Linked DNA regions of Homo sapiens: region 2 is linked to region 1. The links come from fine-mapping of genetic effects on gene expression. Tissue or cell type: whole blood. Region 1 holds a variant in brackets; the other region holds the start of a gene. All regions are shown on one strand. Distances are from middle to middle. Region 1 holds the start of MIR5094 (microRNA 5094). Region 2 holds the start of ARPIN (actin related protein 2/3 complex inhibitor).

Region 1 (2,910 bases):
TGTATTTTTTTTTCTTTAGATGGAGTCTCACTCTGTCGCTCAGGCTGGAGTGCAGTGGCACGATCTAGGCTTACTGCAACCTCCACCTCCCAGGTCCAAGTGATTCTCTTGCCTCAGATTCCTGGGTAGCTGGAACTACAGGCGCCCACCACCACGCCCGGCTAATTTTTTGTATTTTTAGTAGAGACGGGGGTTTCACTATGTTAGCCAGGATGGTCTCGATCTCCTGACCTAGTGATCTGCCCACCTTGGCCTCCCAAAGTGCTGGGATTACAGGCATGAGCCACTGCGCCCAGCCTATGAATTGTACTTTTTTAAAAAAAAATTATACTTTAAGTTCTGGGGTACATGTGCAGAACATGCAGGTTTTTACATAGCTATACACGTGCCATGGTGGTTTGTTGCACCCATCAACTGGTCATCTACATTAGGTATTTCTCCTAATGCTACCCTTCTCCTAGCCCCCTACCCCCGAGAGGTGCTGTTGTGTGATGGTCCCCTCCCTGTGCCCATGTGTTCTCATTGTTCAACTGCCATTTATGAGTGAAAACATGTCGTGTTTGGTTTTCTGTTCTTGTGTTAGTTTGCTGAGAATGGTGGTTTCCAGCTTTATCCATGTCCCTGCAAAGGACATGAACTCATCCTTTTTTTATGGCTGCATAGTATTTCATGGTAAATTGTATTTTAATGCTAAGATTCCTTCAGGAACTCTCAGGCACATAGAGCTGTCTGGTCCTAAGCAGCTCTGAAGAAAGCAAGCCAAGAAAGCAACTTTGCTTTGTAAAGTTCTGTTTTTCCCTTTCACCTGCTCTTAGTGTCTTCTGAATCACTTTTATGAACTGTTTGATCTTCAGACTGGACATTTCCATGGTTTTCCCTAGATGTCTTCTTGTCATAAAATTCCACAAGACATTCAATCCCTAGCCATTGATTTCTTTCTCTCTTTCACTCACAGGATCATACATTGTTTCAGTGGGCAATGAATGAATCCAGTGGAGCCTTGTCTTACACATCAGATGAAACGGCTGGCTGGTTTAGGGGCCACAGAGATTGAAAATTTGTTTTAAGCATTAGAATCACTCTAAGCACTCTACGATACACATGAGCACAGGCACATGAGAGCAGAGGCAAAGAAGAGCAGATTCAAATCTTCCATGTCACACTCATTCCAGACATATACTAATTAAGTAGAATTGAGGGCATATTC[G/C]TACTGTATTTAGAATTTTTCATTTCCTTTTTGTTTTTGGACAAATGGATAGAGTTGAACAAGTTGAATGTTTCAGTGAGCCCACTGTACCTACCACATAAAAGGCAGTGTGTTAGGTTCAAGGCATTCACTGATTTTTTTCTTTTTTTTTTTTGAGACAGGGTCTTGCTCTGTCACTATCACTCAAGCTGCAGAGCAGAGGCGTGATCATGGCTCACTGCAGCCATGGCCTCCCAGGCTCAAGTGATCCCACCTCAGCCTCCAGAGTAGCTGGGACCACAGACCTGCATCACCACACCCAGCTAATTTTTGTATTTTTTGTAGAGACAGGGTTTCACCATGTTACCCAGGCTGATCTCAAACTCCTGGGCTCAAGCAATCCTTCTGTTTCAACCTCCCAGAGTGCTGGGATTACAGCACCTGGCCGATTTTTCACTAAAAGAACATAATCTCTAACAATGTCTATTTTCAAATATGCTTAACATCACAGATTGTTAAGAGCTGGAAGAAGGAAATGAAGATAAGATGTGGACCCTGTCCTTAAAGAGCTTAGAATCAAGTAAGAAAGATTAAACATGTACAGAATTAACTATAATAAAAGGAAGTCTGTGATAAATACCATGACCCAAGTACAAAGTACTATGTTATTTCAGAGAAGGGTGGCCTTAAAACTAACTGGCAATTGGAGGAAAAGGCATCCAGGCAGAGGGAATGGCAAATTACCTAGCAACTCATTCATTATTCTTCATGCTCTACTAATTCATCTTCTTTTTTTTTTTTTGAGACAGAGTCTTGCTCTGTCCCCCAGGCTGGAGTGCAGTGGTGCGATCTCAGCTCACTGCAACCTCCGCCTCCTGCGTTCAAGCAATTCTCCTGCCTCAGCCTCCTGAGTAACTATGATTACAGGCATGTGCCACCACGCCTGGCTAATTTTTCTATTTTTAGTAGAGATAGGGTTTCACTATGTTGGCCAGGCTGATCTTGAACTCCTGACCTTGTGATCTGCCCAACTCGGCCTCCCAAAGTGCTGGGATTACAGGCATGAGCCACCGCGCCCAACTCAACTTCTTTTTTAATTAATAAAAGGATCACTCACTCACTGGCTTCATATTTTATGCTCTTTGAATATATATAGTTGACTGCAGTAAAGTATACTCACTACATATTATTACTTCCTTTTTTAAAAAAACCAGTTCCTATTATGAGTCAGGGTTCTCCGTGAAATCATTTTTTTTTTTTTTAATGTTCTAGCAGGACTTTTTCTTTCTAACCCAGTGTTTCATCCTCCTTTGGCTACTACCTGTTTGCACTGCTGATCCCAAATGCCAAGCACAGTGCTAAGTACAGAAAAAGATCCAGACCTTGTCCTTTTGAATTTCATCCTTCCTTGGTTGCTTATCTGCTAAGAAAACATGACACAAACACATTTCCCCACATTTAGGATGTCAAAGCAGGCGGGAATACTACAGGCAGCATTGCAGAGTGTAGAGGGAGCGGGTCCATAATCAGAGTCCAGGATCTGAATGTGGCTCTATCACTTACCAGCTGTGTGACCTTAGAGAAACTGAGGCTTCCTACCAATAAACCTCAGTTTCTTCATCTGTAAAATGGGGAGAACCAGAGTTCTTAGCTGCCAGGCTTATTCTAAAGATTAAAAAAGATGATGTAGGAAATAAATGAGACACTGTATATAAAGCACTTAG
Region 2 (2,910 bases), 62 kb after region 1:
GGTATCTAAGCTGCAATAAACTATTTTCCCTTTCCACCTGTTTTTAAACACTCTCATATTCCTTTTCTCATTCATATCCAGGTGGTCATTAACCCGAGGAAATGGTTATTACTGAGAGGTGAAGAAACCAAAACTCAGAAGTCTGAGACTAGTCCAAGATCACACGGTCCTTCACTGAGGGGAAGTGGACCCCTGGCTTCTCGACTCTGGTTTTCATAAAAGCAGAACGTGGAGGCTTCCTTTTTTGCATCCACAGAAATGGAGAAGCATGGGGACAGCTGAAGATGACAGTGGAATAGGGATGGGAGTGGGAAGTGAAAACTCTACCTAGCTGGTCTCTATCCAATTCTTCCCCACCCCCCACAATTATTTTTCTAAATATTTAACTGACAAAAGACTGTATATATTCAAGGTGCACAACGTGATGATTTAAGTACACACTATGTAATGATTACCACAGATTAATGAACACACCCACCAGACCCCATGCTGTACATTAGGTCCCCAGAAATTGTTTATTCTATAACTGAAAGTTTGTACCTTTGATCATTACCCCATCCCCATCCACTATCCCCTGGCAATCACTGTTCACTGTTCTACTGTTTCTTTTCTTTTGACACAGTCTTGCTCCATCGCCCAGGATGGAGTGCAGTGGCACAATCTCGGCTCACTGCAACCTCCACCTCCCAGGTTCAAGCGATTCTCATGCCTCAGCCTCCCAAATAGCTGGGATTACAGGTATCTGCCACCACGCCCGACTAATTTTTGTATTTTTAGTACAGACAGGGTTTCACCATTAGGCTGGTCTCAAACTCCTAACCTCAAGTGATCCACCCGCCTCGGCCTCCCAAAGTGCTGGGATTACAGGCGTGAACCACAGCGCCTGGTCTGTTCTGCCGTTTCTATGGTTCAACGCTTTTATAGGTTCCATATACGAGATCACACAGTATTTGTCTTTCTGTATCTGGCTTATTTCACTTAGCACAATTCTTCAGCGCAGTTGTAAATGGAATGGTCCCTTCGGCCTCATAACCCTGTGACGACAGGGCCTGGCCCTCCAAATCCTCCTCACCCAGGCAGGCCCTGCTCTGGACCAGCCCGCCCGCTGTTCCCGCCACAGCACGGCCACTGTCCCTTCTGGGGCAGGGCATGAGTCTGTGCAAAAGCAGCGCGGCAAGTAGCTGGAGTTTATAGTTACGCGGGTGGGGTGGGGCCGGAGGTCGGCGTGAGGCGAAGCCCAGCCTTCGGAGACCTGTCTGGGGGTCGGGACCCTCTCTCGAGGGCAGGCGGACAGGCGGGGAGCTTTAAGCCGATCTGTGTCATGGGGTCGCTGGGCGGGCGCGGCGGCAGGGGCGCCGGGAGCGGCGGACTGGAGGGGCGGACTGAAGGCGGAGAGGCGGCTTTGGCAACCCCAGTTTTCCCCCACCCGCATCCCACCCCCCCACCCGATCCTGTTGCGGGGTTCGAGCCGGGGCAGGGGAGGCCGACCCGAGGCCGTGAGCCCAGGCCTACCCCTGGTGGGCGGCGGGGTCCCAGGCCCCTGGCAGCCGGACGCTCTGCACCGCCTTGTTCCGGAGCGCGCCGTCGTGGTAGATGCGGCTCATTCTCCCGACCGCCCGGGCACCCCGGCACAGAGCCGGCGCACTGGGCTGGGGGCGCGGCGCGGGAAGTGCTGCAGGACGCGCGGGGACCCGCGATTCCCAGCCGGCGGATCCGGGAATGGCGCGGCCCGGCCCTCAGGCGTTCCTCGGCGGGATTTAAAGGGACCGAGCTCCATTCCTGCACGCCAGGCCGCGCGCGGCAGGAGTTGGGCTTCCGGGAGGACCCTGGCTGGGGGCTTAGCACAGTGGGGCAGAAAGGCCATGCTTTTCTCTTGTCTCTCTCTCTTCCTCATTCCTAGAGGAAGATCCCTGCCCCAGCACACGCACAAAAGGGAAATTGAGGCCCCAAGATCCTATTATAGAAGATCCTTTGTAGGATCAGCCCGGGAAGGATGGGTTTCTGGGAAGCAGGAATGGAGAACAGCCACTGGGGAGGATTGGGTGGTCAGCTTAGAAGCTGTCCATTATGCCCCGCCCGCGGCCCTACAATGGCTGAGTCAGGTATCCCAGGGATCTGTGACGAGGGAGCTGGGGCATGGGTGTCGGACCAAAGACGCCTAAGTTTGAATCCCAGCTGTGAGCTTGGGCAAGCTCCTCAACCTCTCTGAGCCCATGCTTCTTCGTCTGTAAAATGGGGTCAGTATCAGGGGGATTGTAAAGTTTAATGAGCTCACCCTTTCTACAACATAGCATTGCCCTCCCTCCTTCTTCCTGCACAGCTCCTGAACTCCTCCCTGGCCCCACAATGCCCTTTGCCCAAGTATGTCATAGTCCGCAGGTGCATTTTCCAAGCCTGGTACAGAAGATTCTTCTGACCCTGGGATTGTTGAGGAATCTTTGTTCTTTTGTTTGGCTTCTTCGTGCCAGGCCTCGGGGCAGGTGGGCCCATTCAGGGAGGCCAGGTGTACCCCGGGAGAGGGGGCGGCATTTAAAGGGGGTGGTGGCCAGGCAGGTGCCTAGGAGTCTAGCATGAGCTGTCAATGTTGGAAGAAGAAAGCACCCTCTCCCTTCCCTGCTACACACACACACACACACACACACACACACACACACACACAGACAATGACTTTCTTGGGTCCTAGGCACTTTTGTTTTCAAAGGACCCTTTCTCCATTAAAAATTTTTTAAAAAATTATTATCTTACCACTGGGTTGGCATAAAGATGAATATATGAATTATATATATATATATATATTTTTTTTTTTTTTTTTTTGAGACAGTCTTCCTATGTTGCCCAGGCTGGAGTGCAGTGGTGAATCTTGGCTCACTGTAACCTCTGCCTCCCAGGTTCTAGTGATTCTCCTGCCTC

Evidence for each region. PIP is the estimated chance that this variant, and not a neighbour inherited with it, causes the effect.
Region 2: ARPIN starts here. The variant in region 1 is the best candidate, but not a certain one, in a credible set for the expression of ARPIN in whole blood (TOPMed, PIP 0.56).

What each region holds. Positions count from the first base shown.
Region 1 is chr15:89,849,369-89,852,278 of GRCh38, forward strand. All of the region lies in intron 8 of ARPIN-AP3S2 (ARPIN-AP3S2 readthrough), which reads right to left. The region is part of intron 4 of AP3S2 (adaptor related protein complex 3 subunit sigma 2); the gene reads right to left. It overlaps MIR5094 (microRNA 5094), which reads right to left and starts at 1,353; the gene lies at 1,269-1,353. RefSeq lists enhancers at 1-37, 2,349-2,398. The variant G/C (reference allele first, on the strand shown) is at 1,208.
Region 2 is chr15:89,911,232-89,914,141 of GRCh38, forward strand. It overlaps ARPIN (actin related protein 2/3 complex inhibitor), which reads right to left and starts at 1,721. Exons shown (of 6, transcript NM_182616.4): 1 at 1,513-1,721. The coding sequence starts at 1,604. It overlaps ARPIN-AP3S2 (ARPIN-AP3S2 readthrough), which reads right to left and starts at 1,721. Exons shown (of 10, transcript NM_001199058.2): 1 at 1,513-1,721. The coding sequence starts at 1,604.